Linked DNA regions of Homo sapiens: all the other regions are linked to region 2. The links come from fine-mapping of genetic effects on gene expression. A gene starts in region 2. Each other region holds a variant in brackets. All regions are shown on one strand. Distances are from middle to middle.

What was found. PIP is the estimated chance that this variant, and not a neighbour inherited with it, causes the effect.
Region 1: its variant is fine-mapped to the expression of FAM177A1 in monocytes (BLUEPRINT, PIP 0.91).
Region 3: its variant is fine-mapped to the expression of FAM177A1 in activated CD8 T cells (Schmiedel 2018, PIP 0.95).
Region 4: its variant is fine-mapped to the expression of FAM177A1 in whole blood (INTERVAL, PIP 0.93).
Region 5: its variant is fine-mapped to the expression of FAM177A1 in whole blood (TOPMed, PIP 0.98).

Annotation. Positions count from the first base shown.
Region 1 is chr14:34,947,662-34,952,765 of GRCh38, reverse strand. The region is part of intron 2 of SRP54-AS1 (SRP54 antisense RNA 1); the gene reads left to right. Among named protein-coding and RNA genes, the nearest start is that of SRP54-AS1, 32 kb to the left of the region's middle. The variant T/AT (reference allele first, on the strand shown) is at 2,168.
Region 2 is chr14:35,043,727-35,048,830 of GRCh38, reverse strand. FAM177A1 (family with sequence similarity 177 member A1) reads right to left here and starts at 2,559. Exons shown (of 5, transcript NM_173607.5): 1 at 2,203-2,559. The coding sequence starts at 2,367. RefSeq lists enhancers at 1,690-1,749, 1,850-2,119, 2,840-3,039 and a silencer at 2,370-2,719.
Region 3 is chr14:35,093,298-35,098,401 of GRCh38, reverse strand. It overlaps PPP2R3C (protein phosphatase 2 regulatory subunit B''gamma), which reads left to right. Exons shown (of 13, transcript NM_017917.4): 8 at 1,638-1,693; 9 at 1,769-1,844; 10 at 3,218-3,354. The region is part of intron 1 of LOC101927178 (a long non-coding RNA gene); the gene reads right to left. Among named protein-coding and RNA genes, the nearest start is that of PRORP-PSMA6, 26 kb to the left of the region's middle. The variant T/G (reference allele first, on the strand shown) is at 2,721.
Region 4 is chr14:34,714,950-34,720,042 of GRCh38, reverse strand. No RefSeq gene overlaps it. Among named protein-coding and RNA genes, the nearest start is that of CFL2, 2.9 kb to the right of the region's middle. RefSeq lists a silencer at 5,014-5,093. The variant C/T (reference allele first, on the strand shown) is at 2,841.
Region 5 is chr14:35,133,644-35,138,747 of GRCh38, reverse strand. The region is part of intron 4 of PRORP (protein only RNase P catalytic subunit); the gene reads right to left. The region is part of intron 4 of PRORP-PSMA6 (PRORP-PSMA6 readthrough); the gene reads right to left. Among named protein-coding and RNA genes, the nearest start is that of PRORP, 14 kb to the right of the region's middle. The variant C/T (reference allele first, on the strand shown) is at 2,758.

The DNA.
Region 1 (5,104 bases), 96 kb after region 2:
ACTGGAATTACAGGCGTGCCGCCACCATGCCTGGCTAATTTTTGTATTTTTAGTAGAGATGGGGTTTCACCATGTTGGCCAGACTGGTCTCGAACTCCTGACTTCAGGGGTCTCACTCTGTCCTGACTTCAGGTGATCCACCTGCCTCGGCCCCCAAATCAAGGAAGCACTTCATGGCTTCTCTGGCATATCTAACTTGCCAGCATCACTACTCTGTGCTTTGGGGCCATTCTTAAGTAAAATAAGCATTACTTGAAAAGCAAACAAAAAAATGAAAATTAAAAAAAAAGAAAATTTAAAAAACAAACAAAAAAGAACGAGAAATAAGCCTTACTTTACCACCAGCCCTTCGATAAGGAGACAAAGGGCTTGATCTGACAAAGAAGACGCTACTAAGTGACTAACAGGTGGGTAGTGGAGACAAGTGTGGATCCCCTGGATAAAGAGATAATTCACTTCTGGGATACAGAGCAAGATGGCGTGAAATTTCATCATGCTACTCAGAATGGCATGCAGTTTAAAACCTAGGAGTTTTTTATTTCCGGAAATTTTTGTGTGCTGTTTTCAGATTACAGTTGACCACAGGTAATTGAAACTACGGAAAGAAAAACCATGGCTAAGTGGAGATCACTTTATATGCTTAACACATTTTTTAATAAATATGAGGTAAATATTCAAACTGTAGGATACCAAGGAGACATTACTACCACCACCTTCAATATTCTGTATGTGGAGTTATTCAACTTAGTTTTTAAATGTCTATATATTTGCCTAGAGACAACTAACTGTCATTTTATTTTATTTATTTTTATTATTATTATTTGTGCGTGTGGCATGAGGTCTCCCTCTGTAGCCCATGCTGGAGTGCAGTAGCGTAATCTTGGCTCACTGTAACCTCAACCTCCCGGGTACAAGCGATTCTCCTGCCTCAGCCTCCTTAGTAGCTGGGACTACAGGTGTGCGTCACCACACCCAGCTGATTTTTTTGGATTTTTAGTAGAGATGGGGTTTCACCATGTTGGCCAGGCTGGTCTCGAACTCCTGACCAGGAGTGTGGTGGTGCATGCCTGTAGTCCCAGCTACGTGGGAGGCTGAGGTGGGAGGATCACTTAAGCCCAGGAAGCTGCACCACTGCACTCCAACCTGGGCAATAGAGTGAGACTGTGTCTCAAAAAAAAAAAAAAAAATGCTAGTTTCTTACTTTAGGAGAATTTTTAGTGTTGGAAGCTTTATACTTCCCACAATTTGTCATTCCTTAGCTTGACCTCAACCTCCCTCTCTATCCTCCAGTGTTATGCAATGCATCTCAGAAGGTTTGTGGGGAAGGAGAAAAATAGAGTTAAGATAGTTTCATATTTCATCAGCCAAATGAAAAATACACAAAACAAAACCAGTTTTTCATATAGCATTGCTGGTACTCAAACAAAAACATTAAGATTACAGTAAATGTCCTAATTATTTAGCTCTTTACCATTTTACATTGATTTGATAAAAATTAAATTGATAGAAAATAAACGTATTAGAACTCTGGAACTTTTTTCAGCCAATGATTTTTTTAAATTATTAAACTTCATACAGGGCTGGGTGCAGTGGTTCATGGCTGTAATCCCAGCACTTTGGAAAGCCAAGACAGATCACTTGGGGCCAGGAGGTCAAGACCTGTGTGGCCAACATAGTGAAACCCCATCTCTACTAAAAATACAAAAAATTAGCTGGGCATAGTGGCACGCACCTGTAGACCCAGCTACTCAGGAGGCTGAAGCGCGAGAATCGCTTGAACCCGGGAGGCAGAGGTTGCAGTGAGCTGAGATTACGCCACTGCACTCCAGCCTGGGTGACAGACTGAAACTCTGTCTCAAAAAAAAAAAAAAACCGGCCAGGCGCTGTGACTCACACCTGTAATCCCAGCACTTTGGGAGGCCGAGGCGGGCGGATCCACGGGGTCAGGAGATCGAGACCATCCTGGCTAACACGGTGAAACCCCGTCTCTACTAAAAATACAGAAAATTAGCCGGGCGTGGTGGCGGGCGCCTGTAGTCCCAGCTACTCGGGAGGCTGAGGCAGGAGAATGGCATGAACCCAGGAGGTGGAGCTTGCAGTGAGCTGAGATCACGCCACTGCACTCCAGCCTGGGCGAAAGTGCAAGACTCTGTCTCAAAAAAAAAAA[T/AT]AAAAACAAAAGTAAATAAAATAAAAATAATTTTGAAAATTAACTTCATACAGCTTCTTCATTTTTTTTGTCACCTTATTCCCTCACCCAACCTCCAGTGCTGTCTAGTAATGCAGATGCCCCAGATGTCCCAGCCTCGTCCCATTTTGGGATACAACAGCTTAAACATTCCAAAATTTGATGAAAACTTCATCATTAGTAGACATTATAAGGTATTTTTTGTTGATGGTGAATTCCACAGCCATTCAACTATTAATTGCACTAATTTTACAAACATGTACTAAGCGTCCACTGTTTATCCAGCACTCTGCCAGACTCTGGATACAAACATGGAACACTTGGGTCCACTCTGAAGGAACTCACAGTCTAAGGAGAGAGGCGCTTCTTTCATTTAGATACAGGGTAAGGAAAGATGTCGCTGGTAGAGGGAATGCCATATGCGGGGGCATAGAGGAGAGTATTTTAGTATGACCAGGGTCCAGGCTAGGATTACATGAGGTTGGTAAAGTAGACGAATGCCAGATCGGGAAGGACATGGTGTCGCAAACAAAGGAGATCACATTGTATTCTGAAAGGGGGAGCCATTCCAAGATGCATTAGCATACTGATACAGTCAGAATAAAAGTATAGAAACGTAATTCTGAAGACGTTATTTAGGATGGATTAAAAGGGTAAAACATGGTCGGGTGTGGTGGCTCACACCTGTAATCCCAGCACTTTGGGAGGCCAAGGAGTGCAGATCACAAGGTCAGGAGTTCTGGACCAGCCGGGCATGGTGACGGGCACCTGTAATCTCAGCTACTCAGGAGGCTTGAGGCAGAAGAATTGCTTGAACCCGGGAGGCAGAGGTTGCAGTGAGCCGAGATCGTGCCATTGCACTCCAGCCTGTGCGACAAGAGCAAGATTCTGTCTCAAAAACAAAATAAAAGGGCAAAACAACAGCAAAGAAAATAAGTCAGCCACTGGAGTGGTCCAGCAAACCCAGTAGTAATGAACTAAGGCATCAACACTGGGAATGAAGGGAGAAAGAAGGAATCATGAAGTATTTAGGAGGGCCTAGCACTTTGTGGGGAGTAGATAAATCTGGAAGTGAGTAGTTTTAATAATTACATTTACGAAGAGATTTGAGAAAATCAGTGAGGCATTACAGCAAATCCATTAAGTCAAAAGATAATAGCAAGAAATCTGCTGCATGGAATCATACGCTAACAAAATAAAAAATAGTTAAATACTAAGTACATGGCCAAAAAAGAATGCCAGGAGGCAAACATTAAAACAATAGCTTGAATGGGAACCTGCCAAGGGTGAAACACACATATAAGATACACAAGGATAACTGCATTGAAGACAAGGATTAGGGTAGGGCATAAAATAAAGTTCTAAACATTGTAAATAAGAATCTAGCTGGGGAGCTGGGTGCTGTGGCTCATGCTTGTAATCCCAGCACTTTGGGAGGCCAAAGTGGGTGGATCACCTAAGGTTGGGAGTTCTAGACCAGCCTGACTGACACGAAGAAACCCCGTCTCTAATAAAAATACAAAATTAGCCAGGTGTGATGGCACATGGATGTAATCCCAGCTACTCAGGAAGCGGAGGCAGGGGAATCACTTGAACCCAGAAGGCAGAGGTTGCAGTGAGCCGAGATCGTGCCATTGCACGCCAGCCTGGGCAACAAGAGCGAAAGTCCATCTCAAAAAAAAGAATCTTGCTGCGGAAAAGAAGACAAACATAAGGGTTTCACTGGCGACATGCTAGTATAGTAAAAGATACGTACTTTATTTTTAATTTTTTTTTGAGACAGGGTCTAGCTTTGTCTCCTAGGATGGAGTGCAGTGGTGTGATCTCAACTCATTGCAGCCTCAACCTCCCAGGCCCAAGCAGTCTTTCCACCTCAGTCCCCCAAGTACTTGGGACTACAGCTGTGCACCACCATGCCTGGCTAATTTTTTGTAGGGACAGGGTTTCACCATATTGCCCAGGCTGGTCTCAAACTCCTGAGCTCCAGCAATCCACCTGCCTTTGCCTCCCAAAATGCTGAGATTACAAGTATGAGGCACCACTCCTGGCTTAATTTTTTTTTTTTTTTTTTTAAGACATGGTCTCACTCTGTCACCCAGGCTGGAGTGCAGTGGCATGATCTCAGCTCACTGTGGCCTCAACCTTTCAGGCTCAGGTGACCCTCCCACCTCAGCCTCCCAAGTAGTTGGGACTATAGGCACCCACCACCACACCCAGCTAATTTTTGTATTTTTTGGTAGAGACGGTTTCACCATGTTTTCCAGGCTCATCTCAAGCTCCTGGGTTCAAATGATCCACCTGCCTCAGCTTCCTAAAGTGCTGGGATTACAGGCCTAAGCCACCATGCCTGCCCAGATACCTACTTTAAAAGTAACTTTTTCCTTAGATACAGTGTTGTTTAGGCAGGCCTTGGAACCTGGGGTATTGCTTAATGCTTTAAGCAACTCAACCACTTTAGGCTGCCGTTTTATCCACTTGTAAAATAAGTTAATTCATCTTTTCTGACCATGAATTTCACAAGAGTATTATGTACATCGAGAATGATAAACAGTCCTTCAGACACACATATGGAAATGCACATAAATAGAATACAAATTGGAACTGATCTGTTTATCAGAAGAAATGTCCCAACCACATAGATAGATAAAGTAATCGTATTTGTATCAAGGATCCTCATTTCGAAGAGCATTCAACTTCAAGTTGCTCTTTGCCAACAACAATGATCATCCAGCTGTTAAGTTCTCTAACACTAATTGGTATTCTCAAATTTCTACTTTCTTTGAGGGAGATGAGGAAAAAATGCCCAATATAACCTTTTAGGAATAAATTAAATATAGATTATGGATTAGTGAAAATGTAATTACGTAGACTGAGGAGAAAAGAAAGTATGTGGCCAGGTGCGGTGGCTCATGCATGTAA
Region 2 (5,104 bases):
TCTCTTACTCCCTTTCCCTACATTGCACTAGGGATTTCTCAGTTCTGCCAAACTTGGGAAGAAGTGTAAGATAGAGGCCTCTCCATCTCCTGAGATGTCCACTTCCCTGTTACTGTGCTCAACCCCCTGGGCATAGAACTGGAGTTCCCAAAGATGTTTCTGATTCAGGAATGTGAATCTGAAAGCACAAAGGGCAAATCAGAAAATGGAACTCATTGGTGTTTAACAAGAAAGAAGAGATATTTAATATTTAATAATATATATAATATATAAGAAATATATAATATTGAATGATAAAATTCCAGAGAGACTACACCAAAACTTAATAGTTACCTTTGGGGAATGAGAACATGAAGAAAGGGTGGTGGTGGGGTATTCCTGTGAATTTTTATCTTTTGTTCTACAGCCTTCTTTACTGGTTAAGTACTTATTTGTTAACCAAGAATGTGAAAACAACAGAATATCACTAACCCCAATCAAAGAGCCTCTCACTTCAAACAACATTTAGCTGGTATATAAGTACACGTGTGTTTACTTTGCTATTAGATCCAGGGCGGAGGTAGTGATTTTAAAAAAACAATTCTAGTAACAACAGGAAAAATCAAATTGAAAAACATATCAAGCACCATGGACTCAAAGGTTAAGTGTAAGTGCACTTGCCAACAATAGGTCTCAACTCAACTGAAAATGACGTGGCTTCCTTATCAATTCATGTTGTCCCCTGAATCCCCTTCTTAAGTAGGAGGGAAAAAACGTATTCCATATAGAGTTTGGTATGTGGGAAAGTTGTGTTTTTTGTTTTTGGGGTTTCTTTAGTTTTTTATTTAAGAGATGGGTTCTTGCTCTGTTGCCCAGGCTGGATAAGCTTTTGTTAATGCAAACGACATCTTATACTATAAGAGATACACAGAGATATACTCACAGTTTGGGGGAAATGTCTTACTAACATTCAGGTACTTAGTCTCAAAAATGAAGCTACTGAAAAAGCTTCATTCTCATGGAGGATGGGAAGAGTTACATACATGAGCAACTCAAGGGTTTTTTTTTTGTTGTTGTTGTTGTTGTTGTTGTTGTTGCTGTTTTGAGACGGAGTCTCGCTCTGTCTCCAGCCTGGAGTGCAGTGGCGTGATCTCGGCTCACTGCAACCTCCACCTCCAGGGTTCAAGCAATTCTCCTGCCTCAGCCTCCCGAGTAGCTGGGACTACAGGCGAGCGCCACCACGCCCAGCTAATTTTTGTATTTTTAGTAGAGAAGGGGTTTCACCATGTTGGCCAGACTGGTCTTGAACTCCTGACCTCAGGTGATCCACCCGCCTTGGCCTCCCAAAGTGTCTTTTTGTCTAATACTGAAAAGTTGCAAGAAACGTTAACTCTCTAAACCAGCGCTGTCCAATACAGTAACCACTAGCCACATGTGGCTAATGCGCACTTGAAATGTGGTCAGCCAGAACTGCGATATGCTATGCGTGTAAAATGCACCCAGGATTTAAAAGACTTAGAAAAGACTCCAAAAGAGAATGCAAATACTTCATTAATAACTTTCATAGTAATTTTAGGTTGAAATTGTTTTGATAAATTAGGTTAAATAAGATATGCTATTAAAATTAATATCGGTTTCACTTTTTTAAAACGTGCCTACTGGAAAATTTTAAATTACAATTTTCAATGCAGCTTGCATTCTATTTATGTTGGACAGCGCAGCTCGGAGCCTTAGTTGCCTCGGCGGTGAAATGGGGCTAACACCCACCTCGAGCGGTTACTGTAAGGATCCAGTGAATTAAAGCTGGTAAACGTTTGGCATATGCCAAGCAAAGGGCAGATGCCCAGGCAGGCGCTCGCACCAGAAGAGACTGAGAAGTGGTTGAAGCCGCCCTCACCTGGCTTCCAGCTACTGCAAGGACAGCCTTTGGGGGACACGCCTTTCTTCTTCCTCTGGTAGACCAGAAGCTGGACTATCACCCCAGGAACCCGAGGCCGCCCCAGAGTCTGCTGTGCTGCCAGCCAAGGGGTTGGTGAGTGAGGCGGGGGGCGCTCCTTCCCACAAGCTGGTCTCAGTGAGCAGAAACAGGGGTGCAGTGAGGAGGAACTCCAAAGCTGGGGCGGCCTGCTCGGAGGACGGCCGCGCAGGCTAAAAGAGCGGCCCGCGGAGAAGGCAAGGAGGCGGCTCGGCTCCCCGGACGTCAGCCTCGGCGGCCCCACCTACCTGCCCTGCAGATTCCCCGAATGCCGCGGCGGCCGCAGCTCCCGAGGCTGCGACGGCTTCTCCTCGTTCCACACCGCCCACTGGCTCCTGGTCCATCGTCGTCGCCACCACAGGGCTGCTGGCGCTGGTGAGAAAGAGGGTAATGGCCGGTAAGCCCACTTCCATCCTTGGTCTCCCCGCCCAGTCGCTGGCCGAGCCAGGCTGTCGGGAAGTGGGACTCACCCGCCCAGCGCCCGCCTCGCGCCGCGCCTAGCCAAGTCTCTGAGAAGGGGACTCGCCGGCCTGAGGGGCGGGGCCAGCCCGCGCCTCGCCTAGCCCGCCGGGCTCCGCACCCCGAGAGCTGGCCAACTGCAGTCTGGGAGGCGCAACTACCGGCTCGCGCGGGGCGGGGCGGGGCGGGGCGGGTCCTTGCGGGGCGTCGCTTCCGGCCAAGCAAGCATCCAGAGCTCGTGGATCCCCGCCTGGCACCGCCTGTGACGTCATTTCTGGTACGTGTACCTGAAGCCTGGCGTCTCGACCTCGGCGCAGCCCGTCACCAGCGGCGTCTGGGGCAGTCACCCCGCAGGACCTCGGTTTTTGCACTTGTAAAATGAAGACAGCTGTGTCGTTGTACTTCAAAGGCTAGTGATGGGATGTGGTTGCTGAAAAATGTAAAATGTACGGCTCGTGCTGCACTTTCCATTCCAAACGTGGGTGACAGTCCAGCCAAAATACCCTCGAAAGAAGAACCCCAGGCGTGATATTTGCTTACTCTTGTCTGAAATACTTAAGTATAACTGTAGAAAGTGTTAAGTGAAAAGACCTGAAGGAGAGCAAAGGGCAGTAGTAAGCTTCCATCTTGACAAATGTAAGGAATGTTTTATCTGTGTCTTAAAGTCGTGTGCGTATGTTAGAGGGGGCGTCCCAGATTTTTTCCGTCTTTCGCAATGTTCAACGAAAGTAAAAAATCATGCAATTACTGCATGACTTCAACATCAAACAAGTCTGAGGTTCTGCAGGTAAATGGTATATTGTTGTTTTAGCATGAAAGTTTTCACAAATATGTAGGGGGCAAAACCAAAACATACATTATTTTGGCTATGGGAGGCTTCATTTGATACTTTAAATTCCATTTTCATACTAGTCTCAATTCAGAAATGCTCCCTAAAGTTGTATGACCTTGTAAATGTTTTTCATCATAGCAACAGCAGGCCCAAATATTAAATATTCCTTTCTCTTCTGTGCCAAAGTTCTTCTCCTTACCCTCTGCCTAATGTTATTGTACACTTCCTATTCTATGTATAACTGGAACCTAAAAACAAAACCAAAAACTTTAAAAAACAAATAATCATTTGAAAACCATCTACGCCTTAAAAACTAGTTGGAAATCCATATTGCTCTCTATCCTGGTAATAAAATCAAGTTAGGTTGCTGCTGAAGTAAACAAGTTAGTACCTGATCTGACTCTGTATGGTGGCATCAGCAGGGAGTTGAGACAGTCCAAAACAGCAAAACCAAACTCGGCCATAAATTGAAAACAAAAATAAAGAACCAATTGTTAAGACTTCATGAATTGGCATTCATAAACAACACAGTTCTGCATTATATGTATTCAAAATCTCTTCCTTCTTACTGGCAAGCAGGGCAATCAACAATCTTTATTACTAAAACTTTGTGGGATATTTATAAATGCATGATTTTATTTTCCAAAGTGGCAATTAAATATCAAATTACAATTTTCTTTTTCTTTTTTTTCTTTTTTTTTTTTTTTGAGATGGGGTCTCACCCACGCTGGAGTGCAATGGCGCAATCTTGGCGCACTGCAACATCCGCCTCCCGGGTTCAAGCGATTCCCCCACCTCAGCCTGCCAAGTAGCTGGGATTACAGTTGTGCACTACCACGCCCGGCTAATTTTTGTATTGTTAGTAGAGACGGGGTTTCACCATGTTGGCCAGGCTAGTATCGAACTTCCGACCTCAGATGATCCACCCACCTCAGCCTCCCAAAGTGCTGGGATTACAGGCGTGAGCCACCACGCCTGGCCTCAAATTACAATTTTCATTGCCGAAGCAGAATATATTTTCACAGTTTACATGTGTATTTCTTAGTTTACTGAAAATTCAAAGTACAAGTTACATTCTAACGTGAACTGGAAGTATTTCCTAAAAAGTTATTTTTAACACAAATATCCAATTGAAGAGCAGTTTATTACAAATCAACAACTCGGGCTGGGCACGGTGGCTCACGCCTGTAATCCCAGCACTTTGGGAGGCGGAGGCGGGTGGATCACGAGGTCAGGAGATCGAGACCATCCTGGCTAACACGGTGAAACCCCGTCTCTACTATAAAATACAAAAAATTAGCCGGGCGTGGTGGCGGGCGCCTGTAGTCCCAGCTACTCGGGAGGCTGGGGCAGGAGAATGGCGTGAACCCGGGAGGCGGAGCTTGCAGTGAGCCGAGACCGCGCCACTGCACTCCAGCCTGGGCGACAGAGCGAGACTCCGTCTCAAAAAAACAAAAACAAAACAAATCAACAACTCAAAGCAACATAAAAGCATAGAAATTCTAATGGTTTTATTTTGGACATTTATATTTTTGTCATTATTTCCAAACTGTTATAGCTCAACCAAAAGTAGGCACCAAGGCAATGTGCCAAATTTTTCCTTCTTTCACTTTGTAACATAAATTGTATCGTAGCACTATGACAAAAATAAATTCAAGTATTATGATAATTTATCTACTTGAAAACATAATGTGGTCTAAATTTATCATTTAATGATACATATAGAGCTAAAAAGGTAAATTTGGATTGAACCATTTCTGCGTAAGGCTGGGAAAATAAATCTGAATAAAATTTGATAACCAGGAATGTTCATCAAATAAACAAGACATTCTTAGGGTTTTAACATAGCTACATATATA
Region 3 (5,104 bases), 50 kb before region 2:
CAGCCTGGGCAACAAGAGGGAAATTCCGTCTCAAAAAAAAAAAAAAAAAAAAAAACTAGCCAGGCGTAGTGACACACGGCTGTAGTCCCAGCTACTTGGGAAGCTGCTGAAGTGGATCACTTGAACCCAGGAGGCAGAGGCTGCAGTGAGCCAAGATCGGGCCACTGCACTTCAGTCTGGGCAACAGAGCCAGACCTTGTGTCCAAAAAAAAAAAAAAAAAATCCAGTTATGAATCCAATCACAGCATATGGTAGCTGACAGTGTTTTTTGAACTCCTCTACTATAAGTACACACATATATACTTTTTCAAATTTTACAAAATAATATCACGTTTTGACTTATGTAGTATGCTAAGCATTTTACATGGATTCATTCATTTTCATCTCATAACCCCATAAGGAAGGTACATTATTGTCCACATTTTATGTGTAAGGCAACTGAGACTTTGCTAGGTTACATATTTAAAAGTGGCATTCAAACTCCAATCTGGGCTAGGTGTGGTGGCTCACACCTGTAATCCCAGCACTTTGGGAGGCTGAGGTGAGAAATCACTGGTGCCTAGGAGTTCAAGACCAGCCCTGGCAAGACAGACCTCTTCTGTACAAAAAAGCAGCAGCAGCCAGGCGCAGTGGCTCACACCTGTAATCCCAGCACGTTGGGAGGCTAAGATGGGTGAATCATCTGAGGTCAGGTGTTCAAGACCAGCCTGGCCAACATAGTGAAACCCCATCTCTACTAAAAATAGAAAAAATTAGCTGGATGTGGTGGTGGGTGCCTGTATTCCCAGCTACTTAGGAGGCTGAGGCAGGAGAATCGCTTGAACCCAGGAGGCAGAGATTGCAGTGAGCTGAAATCACACCATTGCACTCCAGCCTGGGCAACAAGAGCGAAACTCTGTCTCAAAAAAAAAAAAAAAAAGAACAAGAACAAGACAAAACAAACTCTGCTCTTAAACCACACCTGTTTACCTGCGTATTGCTTTCTAGTCCAGAACCTGCCAAAAATAAATGGAGACAGTGTCCCTGTTCGTGTACCAGCAGTACTATATCTATAATCACAACTTTTTTGAAAATCTGACATCAGTATAATTTTAGAATTTACCACTTAGATTTATATAGTTGAGGTATACAAGTAGAGATGTTATTAAATGTTGCCTGTAGGTTTCTCTTTTTTTTTTGCAGGGTGGGGATGGAGTTTTGCTCTTGTTCCCTAGGCTGTAGTACAATGGCTTGATCTCAGCTCACTGCAACCTCTGCCTCCCAGGTTCAAGCGATTCTCCTGCCTCAGCCTCCAGAGTAGCTGGGATTACAGGCGCCCTCCACCACACCCAGCTAATTTTTTGTGTTTTTAGTAGAGATGGGGTTTCACCATGTTGGCCAGGCTGGTCTGGAACTCCTGACCTCAGGTGATCCACCTGCCTCAGCTTCCCAAAGTGCTGGAATTACGCGGTGAGCCACCGCGCCCAGCCGAGATTTCCCTTTTTGTAGCAATATGTAATAAGGACTTTGGAGCATAAGAGCTAGAAGCTTTAAAATATCAATTGTGTGATTGCTCTTGTTAAAAAAATTTTTTTTTAATTAATTGAGTTGCTCTTTTCTTAAAATGAAATTAATTGTGTTTCTTTATGTTCTTAAAGGAAAGATAAAAATTCAAGATATTTTAGCATGCAGCTTCCTAGATGATTTATTGGAGGTAAATGTTTTTAAACTACTTAATTGTATCACTTGACAGTTGCTATCTTCTAATTATGTCTTTGTGTTCCATTAGCTAAGGGATGAGGAACTGTCCAAGGAGAGTCAAGAAACAAATTGGTTTTCTGCTCCTTCTGCCCTAAGAGTTTATGGTATGTTCCTATCATAATGCTAAAATTTGAATTATCCATTCTTCAGGAAATTGGTGTTCAGAGGACAGTTTTATACATACACTGATATACCTTAAGATCAAAATATTTAATTACCTTAAGCTTTAGTATTCTACATTACCAAAATTTACTTGTTTAAATACCGATGTTTTAACTTTTTGGACTCCCCCCAACCTTTTCTTTTTGAAGACAGGGTCTCACTCTGTCACACTGGCTGGAGTGCAGTGACATGATCACGGCTCAGTGCAGCCTTGAAGTCCTAGGCTCAATCCTCTCACCTCAGTGCCCCTACCCCACCCACCCCACCACCCCCAGTACTGGGTCTACAGGCGCCATGCCTGGCTAATTTATTTTATGTTTTTTTAGAGATGGGATCTCACTGTGTTGCCCAGGCTGGTTTCAAACTCCTGGGCTCAAGCAGTCCACCTGCCCTGACCTCCCAAAGTGTTGGGATTATAGGCATGAGGCACTGCACCCAGCAGAACCCTTTTTAAGTTATACACTTCCTTTTCAATAGAACAGAATGTAATTTGATCCTTGTTGACTCAGGAGCATCATTATGAACATTAGCTATTGTCATGCTTTGTTGATAAAATGCTATTCCCAGGGTCTACTGATGGAGCTAATCTACATTATCTTGTTGGGTGGTCTTTTGACTCCTTTGGCTTTTTTTTTTTTTTTTTTTTTTGGAGATAGAGTCTTGCACTGTTACCTGGGCTGGAGTCCAGTGGCATGATCTCGGCTCACTGCAACCTCCACCTCCCAGGTTCAAGTGATTCTCCTTGCCTCAGCCTCCCAAGTACCTGGGATTACAGGCGCTCGCCACCACACCCGGCTAATGTTTTTTTTTTTTGTTTT[T/G]TTTTTTAGTAGAGACGGTGTTTCACTATGTTGGCCAGGCTGGTCTGGAACTCCTGACCTCTGATCTGCCCTCCTCAGCCTCCCAAAGTGCTGGGATTACCGGCGTGAGCCACCACGCCCGACCTCCTTTTGGCATTCTTATCTCTACTTTCAAGTGCTAGCATTTCAGTGCTTTTTGTTGGCCTCTACCTCCATTTAATTTAGAAACCTAGGAATGTTTAAAAAGACTGCAAACTGAAAACAAATAATGATGTAAGTGAAACAGCCCAGAGACTATGGCCTTCATGATGGGTTTTTTTGGCTGTTTCTAGCCCAAGGGTTTTTCTGATCAAGATTGCAAAGGTAGCTGATAGTATTACACATAGGCCACTACCCTAATCATAACATGAATAGTTTGAAAATCAAAATATTAACCAAGAAAAAACTTTTTGTTAGTCTATTCTTCTGATTAAAATTTTATTGTGGTCATAAGTGTCTTTATTATTTTTCTTCCCAAGGCCAGTACTTGAATCTTGATAAAGATCACAATGGCATGCTCAGTAAAGAAGAACTCTCACGCTATGGAACAGCTACCATGACCAATGTCTTCTTAGACCGTGTTTTCCAGGAGTGTCTCACTTATGATGGAGAAATGGTAGTAGTTTAAATCTGCTGCTAAGTTTTAAAAGTTTAGGCTCCCAGAGTTTCCACAAACCCTTTTCTTGATGTAATACAGCCCTTTTTTTTTTGAGACAGAGTCTTGCTCTGTCGCCTAGGCTAGAGTGCAGTGGTGTGATCTCCGCTCAATGCAACCTCCACTTCCTAGGTTCAAGTGATTCTCCTGCCTCAGCCTCCGGAGTAGCTGGGATTATGGGTGCATGCCACTGCATCCAGCTAATTTTTGTACTTTTAGGAGAGATGGGGTTTCACCAGGTTGGCCAGGCTGGTCTTGAACTCCTGACCTCAGGTGATCTGCCTCCCAAAGTGCTGGGATTACGAGGCGTGAGCCACCACACTCGGCCCAGCATTATTGATATCACTGTGTAACAGTGTCTTTAAAATGTGTAAACTGATCAAATTACTTGAGATTCAGAGTCTTTGGTCTTAACGTAAATTAAAACATCTGCATTATGGCCTCAGGGCAAATAGAAAAGCTTATTGTTCATTTCATTGTCAGTGCACCTACTGTACAGTAGTGCATTCTAGTTTTTTTTTTTTTTTAAAAAAAAGCTGAGGCCAGGCTTGGTAGCTTATGGTTATAATCCCAGCGCTTTGGGAGGCCAAGGCCACAGAACCACTTAAGGCCAGTCGTTCAAAACTAGCCTGAGCAATACAGCGAGACTGTCTCTACAAAAAATAAAAAAATTACTTGGGCATGGATGGAATGTGCCTGTAGTATAGCTACTCGGGAGGCTGAGGCAGGAGGATTGCTTGACCTGAGGAATTTGAGGCTGCAGTGAGCTATGATGAGGCCACTGCACTCCAGTCTGGGCAGTAGAGTGAGACCATGTCTCTTAAAAGCTGAAACATTAGTAAATTATTCTGGCTATTTTCAGCTAGATAGTTCCGTCATTAAATTACCAGGTCAAATGTAGTAACACATATGCCATGATTTAATTCTGAGAATCAGGTTGTATTAGTCTCTAGAAGTGGCTATATGAACAGCTGAAGATAACATGCACTTGTCTTTTTATTATAACAATGCAAAATACTTGAGAAGGAAAATTCTAAACAGCATTTTAAAATCACCATTTTTGCTGCTAAAAACATGGGTTAAGAATCTGATAACTTTGGGAGGCCGAGGCGGGTGGATCACAAGGTCAGGAGATGGAGACCATCCTGGCTAACACGGTGAAACCCCGTCTCTACTAAAAATACAAAAAATTAGCTGGGTGCGGTGACGGGCACCTGTAGTCCCAGCTACTCCAGAGGCTGAGGCAGAATGGTGTAATGGTGTGAACCCGGGAGGCGGAGCTTGCAGTAAGCCGAGATGGCGCCACTGCACTCCAGCCTGGGCAACTGAGCGAGACTCCATCTCAAAAAAAAAAAGAATCTGATAAATTTCCCAAACCAGTTATGCTTAAAAAATAGTCATATTGTCATGAGAATGGGGGGGTCTTACATTTATCATTTAGCTTCAATAGCAGTTTGCTAAATAACACCATTAGTAACAACAAAAGAAAAGAGGGGAAAAGGCACAGAAAATTTACTTTGTAACTCCCACAGCTGTAAACAATAGACAGTGAGGAGCTTATATTATTAATATAATGATTCCTGATGAATAGAGAAAATCAGGCTACAACTATGGATGAAGTCAGATCACAATCTGCATTCTTTAACTCTTTAGTGCTATTTATGCAGAAAGGAACTTTTCTAAGAATATAAAATTTTTATCTAAGTGAGAA
Region 4 (5,093 bases), 330 kb after region 2:
TTTCATGTCTGTATGATTAGCCTATGGTTTTAAAATCTACAGCTTTTGGCTAGGTGTAGTGGCTCATGCCTGTAATCCAAGCACTTGGGGAGGCTGAGGCAGGAGGATCTGTTGAGCCCAGGAGTTCAAGACCAGCCTAGGCAACATAGGGAGACTTCATCTCTACAAAAAATATGAAAATTAGCTGGGCGTAGTAGCACATGCCTGTAGTCCCAGCTACTCAGGAGACTGAGGTGGGAGCATCACCTAAGCCCAGGGAGGTCAAGCCTGCAGTGAGCCATGATCGTGCCACTGCACTCCAGCCTGGATGATGGTGAGACCCTGTCTCAAATAAATAAATAAGTAAATTTAAAAAATAAAAACAAAAATAAAATCTACTGTGTTTTGTTTTGTTTTGTTTTTTTAAGAAAGTCTCACTCTGTCGCCCAGGCTGGAGTGCAGTGGCTCAGTCTCAGCTCACTGTAGCCTCCACCTCCTGGGTTCAAGCCATCCTCCTGCCTCAGCCCTCCCAAGTAGCTGGAACTATAGGCATGTGCCACTACACCCGCCTGATTTTTTTTATTTTTTGTAGAGATGGGGTCTCACCGTGTTGCCCAGGCTGGTCTTGAACTCCTGAGCTCAAGCAATCCACCCACCTTGGTCTCCCAAAGTGCTAGGATAACAGGCATGAGCCATCACGCCCGGCCAAAATCTACTGCTTTTGTAATAAAGTAAGTTAAACAAAGGAGTGTTTAATAAATTACTAGCAAGTTTCTTTTCTCAGATGACGTTTTATATGGTTTGTATAATTTAGGTAACCAGTTGCTATTTACTATCACAATTCAATTACTATCAATGCATTATTAATTAACATTGTGATTGAGGTTTTACAAATAACTGGCGGGTGAATCTGATAAATTGTGTCTGAGTTAATAAGTTGAAGCTGGTATGTTTTACACCATTGAAGTTGGTAATTATAGTTTGAGACCATTTTGAACTACATTTCACTAATTATTGCATTTCAATACTGCTACCTCTTCATTACCACTTCATGTGACACAGATTACTGATAAATTCCTTTATTGTGAGGTCATTCTCCTAAATTAGAAAGAACCAGAGATGGCATATGTAAGACCCAAAGTGAGTTTGTGGATGAGAGTGAGTCACAGAGATCAGACTCCAAAAAAACACCTCCTACTGTATTTATTTTCTAGTTCTAAATTCAAACTTGGATTTAGAAAAATATACGACTTGACTCCTCATCAGTCTTTTTTTTTTTTTTTTTTGAGATGAGTCTCACTTGTCGCCCAGGCTGGAGTGCAGTGGTGCAATCTCGGCTCACTGCAAGCTCCACCTCCCGGGTTCACGCCATTCTCCTGCCTCAGCCTCCTGAGTAGCTGGGACTACAGGCGCCCGCCACCACGCCCGGCTAACTTTTTGTATTTTTAGTAGAGACGGGGTTTCACCGTGTTAGCCAGGATGGTCTCGATCTCCTGACCTCATGATCCGCCCGCCTCAGCCTCCCAAAGTGCTGGGATTACAGGCGTGAGCCACTGCGCCCGGCCCCTCATCAGTCCTTTAGCTCAGGCGTGGGTTAGGAAGGATATGTCAGAGTTAGGAAGGCATGTCGGTAGAAAGGTACATTTTGAAGTGGTAGTGTCTTTATGCTTACATTTGTCTTTGTCAGGAAGTGGCTGTGGGAGCTGAGAATGTGATGTCTCTTGACAGGGAGTAGGGCTTACACACAGTTTGTCTGCATAATCTTCCAGATTCACTGTTTTAGATAGTTCTTTCAAACTTTTACATGCCACAGAACCTCCATCCACATTGTTTCTCAGGTGTGGTGGCTCATGCCTGTAATTCCAGCACTTTAGGAGGCCAAGGCGGGAGGACTGCTTGAGCCCAGAAGTTGAGACCAGCCTGGGCAACATAGTAAGACCCCCATCTCTGTAAGTGAGTAAGTAAATATATACATAATAGATTGTTTCTTGGGGGAATAGATTATATATATTAAGGGATGATCACCTTTCCAATTTTTTAAAGAATCCTGAGTAAACAAACTTTAGCTGAGTCTTCAGAATCAATGAGGATTGGGACGGCTTCACGCTATTGCCTATGAGTTGATAAAATCAGTGCCTTCATCTTCACTCTGCTGGTGGTAATAACAGCTCCAGGGTTCCTATTTCTGTGCTGGACAAGGGCTTTACATACATTATCTCTCTTGATCCTCCCCATAATCCTGAGAGGGAAGAGGTCATATAATCCCTATTTTACACATGATTTGGAAACTGAGCCTTATGGCAGCTAAATCAATGGCCTGAAATTGCACCGCTACTAGTGTCTGAGCTGAGATTACATTCAGAGGTTACTCTCACTAAGTTCCTAATAGTTGTCACTGCCATCTATGTGTGGTCTAGTAAATGGATAATTATAGCTTAGATGTTTACAGCACAAAAGTATCTAGTACCACATTGTTCGGGGTCCCTCTGTCACACCTATTAATTGTTTGCTTGAGCTTGAAATTGCTCAGAACAGTTGTATGGTAGGCAGAATAATGCAACCCCTCCTCACAAAGGTGTTCCTGTCCTAACCTCCAAAGTCTTTGAATGTTAACTTGTACGAAAAAACAGACTTTGCAGATGTGATTAAGTTAAGGATCTTGAGAGGGGGAATTATCCTAAACTACCAAGTGGGGTCCAAAGTAACCATAATGGTCCTTATAAGTGGAAGACGGAGGCAGGAGAGAGAGAGTCAGAGGAAATGTGATGACTGAGGCAGAGGTCAGAGTGATGCGACTGCTGCCTGGGGCCACAGGCCAAAGATGATGGGCAGGTCGAGTGTGGTGGCTCGCACCTGTAATC[C/T]CAGCACTTTGGGAGGCCAAGGTGGGCGGATCACAAGGTCAGGAGATCAAGACCATCCTCGCTAACACGGTGAAACCCCATCTCTACTAAAAATACAAAAAATTAGCCGGGCATGGTGGCGGGTGCCTGTAGTCCCAGCTACTCAGGAGGCTAAGGCAGGAGAATGGTGTGAACCCAGGAGGCGGAGTTTGCAGTGAGCCGAGATAGCACCACTGCACTCCAGCCTGGGTGACAGAGTGAGACTCCATCTCAAAAAAAAAAAAAAAAAATGATGGGCAGCCTCTAGATGTTGGAAAAGGCAAAGGAGTCTCCCACTACAGTCTCTTGACTTTAGCCCCATCAGGCTTATTTCTGCTAGTTGTGGTGGTTCATGCCTGTAATCCCAACTACTCGGGAGGCTGAGGCAGGAGGCTCACTTGAGGCCAGGAGTATGAGGCTGCAGTGAGCTATGATCACATCCTGCACTCCAGCAACCTGGGTGGGCAACAGAACCAGAGACTATCTCTTAAATATATATATATAGAGAGAGAGACTTGTTTCTCTGACTCTGTAAGACCATAAATAATAAATTTGTGTTGTTTTAAACAAGTAATTTTATGGTAATTTGTTATAGCAACAGTCGAACGCTAATACATGTGGTATCTGACACTCAGATCCCCCTCCACTACACAGTGACCAAAATTCATGCAGCAATGATTGGCAATGCTGCCCCTTTACCAAGTGGTGGTAAGTTCTGGTTATAACTCACAGAGGTGAAGGCAGGAAGCTGCTACTGGCCCTGACATTCTCAGTGCCATGCTCACAAGGGCATGTAGAAAGGCTTCACAATTTTCAGAAGCTTCCTTTTCATTCTCTTTACAGCACTAAAGCATCTTAAATGTATTATTTCAGCACCTATTAAGCACCTACTATCTGTCAGGTTCCAGAAATTCAAAGATAACCAGGACTCAGATCCTTAAGGAGCTTACAGCGCAGTAGGGTGGCAGAAGACATAAACAAGTTATTATAATGTAACAAAATATATGCAAGACAAAAATAACTTCAGGAAAAGAATCTTAGAACATGTGAATTACCATCTCTGTTTGGGGAGGGTAAGAGAGAATGGGAGGCATGGAAAGGGGTTGGAGTCCGAGCTAGGGGGTGACTAGCATCTTTGGAATCCCCAGCTTTGGTGGGTAAGGTTCTGACACCCACTTTAGGCCCCAGTGTCATCAGACCTGGTCTCTGCTGGGGCTGCTGCAAATCTCTGAGGTTGGGAAGGGAAGGTAACCGCAAGATGAAGCGAACAGGAATTTGCTAATACCTACACATAGCAGATGATCAGAGCTCTGGAGAGACATTCTCCATGACTTCTTGGAAGTTCAACAGATAAAGTGAAAGGTTCCATAAATTGTAATGTACCAGCTAGATATAAAGTATTATCCACTTGCTTGGGATTCATGCTTAGACATTGGGAAATCCCTTCTCAATTTTTGTCTCTAAACGAAGTCTATCTTCCAATTAAGAAAACAAACCCAAGATATAGACAGAAAAATAGGTCTGTTTCAATGCCTAGCATGTTCCATTTAAAATACAGTAAATTTGGGCTGAAAGAACTTATCACGCAATCTAGGGCAAACACCATCTCATGACTTTCCTGCCTAACCTCAATCCTGAGACCACCAAAAACACACCATTTCCTACTGAACATTGATATACTCAGAAACTGAAATCTAAAGCTGGAAAGGGCCTTAACGATAATTTAATAACAGTTTGTTTTACACATGAAGAACCCTGAGGTATGGAGGAGTTAAGATTAAAAAAAGAGAAACTGCCTTGGCGCAGTTATATGGGCTTTGCTAGAAGAGGCTGCGTCGGCTTATTTGATATCAGCTGTCATAGCTGGAGCTTCATGAAATCTCTAAGAGAGAGTACAATCCATTTCCTATGAAGTCTAAAATGTAAAAGGATATTACTAAGGAATGCTACCACGTAATTTTTTAATCATAATTATTATTTCAACCAGAGTTTTGAAAAGTGATTTACCAACACTGCGTATCATTTTGTTTTTGCTAAGTACTATCAACTGGAGCAATCTCGTGTAGTATTTATTCTCATTTATCTCTAAACAACTGGGGGTTTTCCAAAAAGACTCAAAATGTCGAAATCCAGCCTCTTTCGGGAAAACCACAGGTAAATAAGGAAAGACACCTTCGCAGGAGTTCCCCTCACACGCACCCACCCCTGGCGCAGGGCCCTACGGAGGCGGTGGAA
Region 5 (5,104 bases), 90 kb before region 2:
AGTATTCTAACCAGCAGCCACAGTTGAAAGCCGCTACATTAGAGGGTGTCATCTAATTTACTTTGTTTTGAACAACAGTACTATTTGGGGAAAACATATAAGCCTAAAATAACTTTTATAATGCTCATTTTAGGTGTTTATGGAGGTCAGTTGGCAAAATTTTTTTAAGTAGATTTAATAATTTAATAATTATTTAATAATTTATTCCTTTAATAATTATTCCTTGGTTTATACCTCATATTCTCAAATTATAAGCAAGCTTTAGAAAGCAACATTGAAGGCAGATCCAGCTATTTGTCAACTAGATGTTTCTAATGTTCCTAACACAAAATAATTTAAAATGCTGAATATAATATAGTTTTATTAACGCATATTTACAATGAACGGTATTACGGACTGACTTGTGTCCACTCACCAAATTCATATGTTGAAGTCTCAGCCCATAGTATTTCAGAATGTGACTGTATTTGGAGATAGGCCTTTAAAGAGGTAATTAAGGTAAAATAAGGTCATAAGGATGGGCCCTAATCAAATCTGATGGGTGTCCTTATAAGAGGAAATTTGTACATACAAAGATGATACCAGGAATACACCAGAGGAAGGCCATGTGAAGATACCACAAGAAGGTAGCCATCGGCAAGCCAAAGAGAGAGGGATCAAGAGAAACCAAAGCTGACAACACCTTGATCTTGGACTTCTAGAATCCAGAATGGTGAGAAAATGAATTTCTGCTGTTAAAGCCACCTGGTTTGTGGTATTTGCAATAGCAGCTTTAGCAAATTAATACAAATGGTGAGGAAAAAAAACAACCAACCAACCAAAACAAAACCAACACACACATGTACATGCACGAAGAGACAACCAGTCCCTGGAATCCTCTCATATAGTGCTCTTTGGCCTTCCTCCCTTTCCTATCTGGCCTGGACCCCATGCAGACCATGTTAACTACTTTGTCAGAATCGCCTTCTCTTGCTCTCTATCATGTGCCACATCTAACCAACAAAACCCAAACTCTGGACCAACGCTACCCTTTGTCTTTACTACCTCTGCTCTTGGTGAGCCAAGCTCTGTTGGAAATATATTAAATCACACAATCACACAGAGTAATGTCTACAGATTCACAGATTCAAACCTCAGCACCCACCCTCTGCCATAATCCTTCTGCCTTGAGTTAGCATCTTGACATCCCCTCAAGAACCATTCCAAACCTTCCCCACTCTCTCTAGTACTCTACTTGACTCTCATCTCTCTCATCTTGTATACCACTTAACACAGCAGGTATCATTTCTCTCAATGTTCCCTCTTTCTACCAATTTATCATCCACACCCATCTTCACTTTCTTTTCTACAGCCTCAAATGATATTTCCTTCATTTCCAACCTCCACATTTGTGCTCTTTTTGGCAACCCCTGCTACTTTTACTCAGCAATATTCCTTTTTCTCTCCTACATATCCTGTATACTCAATATTTTTTATCTCTATTGATACCTTTTCTTCATCCTCCAAACAGGCACAAGCCTATCTCTCTAAACCCTCCCTTGACTCCACCATCCTCTAGCCACCACTATATCATCTTTCTAATTTTCATGTAAACTTCTTAAAATTAGAGTTTACACTCAATGGGTATTCACTCAGCTGCTATAACCTGGCTGAATTTGGCCCCCATTAAACTACTGAAACTGTTCTTCCCAAGGTCATCAATGATTTCTTAGTTGCCAAATCCAATGTATCCCTTCAGTCCACACCTTAACAAATCTCTAGTGTATTGCACTCTGTTTTGATATTTGTGACACTGTACTGAATAGATTCTTTCTGCCTTGTTCTGACTGTTCTATCTAATATATGAAACTTCTTCTCTGACCTTCCTTCCTATGCTGGTGTTCCCCATCCCACCCCCACCAAGTTGTGAATTGAGCCCACTACTGTTCTCACTGTTTTCCTGGATGAGCTCAGGCACTCTTCGCATTTAACCTATTACTATTATGTGATGGTCCCCAAACCTCCAGCATTAACTCTCCCCTGTAAGCTGGAACCCAAGTCCTGGATCTTCTGCTGACATTAAAACCCAATATGGGCCAGGTGCGGTGGCTCACACCTGTAATCCCAGCACTTTGGGAGGCCGAGGTGGGTGGATCACCTGAGGCTGGGAGTTCGAGACCAGCCTCACCAATATGGAGAAACCCCCGTCTCTACTAAAAATACAAAATTAGCCGGGTGTGGTGGTGCATGCCTGTAATCCCAGCTACTCAGGCGGCTGAGACAGGAGAATTGCTTAAACCCGAGAGGCGGAGGTTGCGGTAAGCAGAGATTGCGCCATTGCACTCCAGCCTGGGCAACAACAGCGAAACTCTGTTTCAAAAAAAAAACCAAAAAAACAAAAAAACCCGTTGTCGGATATTCAATTATCTTCTCCTCATACCTGTTCTTGGTAGATGGCATCTTTCCAGGGTGACAAAAGAAAAGGAATTAGGGAGTGAGAGTTTGTTCACCCCATCACCCAAGCCGAAAACCTGAACATCATCCTGTCTTCTCCCATCACTGCAGCCAAACCAAATGGTGAAATTTTTATCTCCTAAAATGTTCTCAAAGCTGAGCTGGTCCTTCTCTACCCTTATTCTGGCTTTCATTTCCCTCATCATCCCACACCTGGACCACTCAGCAGCCGTCTGACTCAACTCCAGTGCCTCAATCTTATCCTTTTCAACTCCTTTTTCCAACCAGCTGCCAGAGAGGTCTCTCTAAAATATACATATCATA[C/T]TTTTGCTTAAAACACTTTTTTTTTTTTTTTTTGAGACAGAGTCTTGCTCTGACGCCCAGGCTGGAGTGCAGTGGCATGATCTCAGCTCACTGCAACCTCCGCCTCCCAGGTTCCAGCGATTCTTCTGCCTCAGCCTCCTTAGTAGCTGGGACTACAGGTGCACGCCACCACGACCAGCTAATTTTTGTATTTTTAGTAGAGACGGGGTTTTCCCATATTGCCCAGGCTGGTCTCAAACTCCTGACTTCATGATCTGCCCGCCTCGGCCACCCAAAGTGCTGGGATTACAGGCATAAGCCACTATGCCCGGCCTGCTTAAAACACGTTAATGGCTCCCCAGAACCTATGACAATGTTTCTTAATAATAGCTGCTCATTATCCTATAGTATGCTATAGGACCAACCAATGAGAAAGGAGAGGCCCTCTCCTGGATGCCACTGCTCCTTCACACTCATTACTTCTCCAGAGGTTTATGATATTCATTGATACCAGGGATCAGCAATTTTTTTCTGTTAAGGGCCAAATGGTAAATATTTCAGGCTCTGTAGGCCACATGTTCTCCTTTATATCTACTCAACTCTGCAGGACAAAAGTACCATAGACAGAGGAGAAGGGGTGGAGCAAGAAGGCAGAATAAAAGGCTCCACTGATCGTCCACTTGCAAGGACACCAATTTAACAACTATCTACACATGTAAAAAAAGCACCTTCAAAAGAACCAAAAATCAGGTGAGGACTCACAGTACCTGGTTTTAACTTTGTATCACTGAAAGAGGCACTGAAGAGGTAGGAAAAACAGTCTTGAATCACCACTGCCATTCCTCTCCCATCCCCCTGCAGCAGCAATGTGGTGCAGAGAAAGACTCTGAGTGTTTGGGAGAGGGAGAGTGCAGCAATTGTGAGACACTGCATTGAACTCAGTGCTGCCCTGTTATAGCAGAAAGCAAAAATAGAACAAACTCAGCTGATACCCACCCACAGAAGGGGCATTTAAACTAGCTCTAGCCAGAGGGAAATTGCCCATCCCAGTGGTTGAAACTGGAGTTCCCACAAGCCTCACCACCATGGGCCAAAGTGCTCCAGGCCCGTAAATAAATTTGAAAGGCAGTCTAAGCCACAAGGATTGCAACTCTTAGGTGAGTCCTAGTGGTGAACTGGGCTCAGAGCCAGTGGACTGGTAGGGGCATGTGACCTACTGAGACGATAGCTAGGGGAGTACTGGTGCCATACCTCCCCTAAGCCCAGGCCGCACATCTCACAGTCTCCTAAACAGACCCACTCCTTCTACTTGAGAAGAGATGGAAGAGTGGGGAGGACTTTGTCTTGCATCTTGGACACCAGCTCAGCTACAGCAGGATGGGGTACCGGTCAGAGTCATGAGACACCCCCTTTTCTAGGCCCTAGCTCCTGGACATTTCTAGACACACTCTGAGCCAGAAGGGAACTCACTGCCTTGAAGGGAAGAACCCAATCATGGAAGGATTCATCACCTGCTAACTGAAGAGCCCTTGGGCCCTGAATAAGCAGCAGCAATATCCAGGTAGTACATCATGGGCCTTGAGTGAGACTCTGATATTGCTAGCTTCAGGTACCACCTCAGCCAGAGGTGGGTAGAGCACTAAGGGTGAGTCCCAGGCCAGGCAGCATGCACCACAAGCTGACTGAAGAGCCTTTCGGCCTTATGAGAACATCAGTGGGAGCCTGGCAGAACTCCCTGTGGGCTGGTGGTGGCGGTGGCCACACGGTGGGGCTCCTCTGCTTTTGGAAACGGGAGGGAAGAGTGGGAAGAACTGTGTCTTATCATTTGAATGCCAGCTCAGCCACAATACAACAGAACACCAGGTAGACTTCTAAGATTTTTGACTCTACTCCCTGGCTCCCAAATGGCACTTCTGGACCTGCTGAGGCCTGGGGGAACTTGTCGCCCTGAAGGGAAGAACACAGGCCTGGCTGGCTTTACCAACTGCTGATTGTAGTGCCCCAGGGCCTTGAGTGAACACAGACAGTAGCCAGGGAGTAGTTAAGCAGGCTTTGGGCAAGATCCAGTGCTCTGCTGGCTTCAGGTCTGGCCCAGCACAGTTCTAGTGGTGGTGGCCACAAGGGTATTTGTGTGACTACGTCCTCAGCTCCAGGTGGCTCAGAATGAGAGGGAGAGACTGTTTGTTTAGGAAAAAGTAAGGGAAGAGAACAAGAGCTTCTGCCTAGTAATCCAGAGAATTCTCCCTGATCTTGTTCAAGGCCATGAAGGCAGTACCTCTTACCACAGCATTACTGGGCTTTGGCTGCCCCCTAAAGCACATACAACTTAGATCACAACACCCAAGTCCTTTTAAGTATCTGGAAAGCC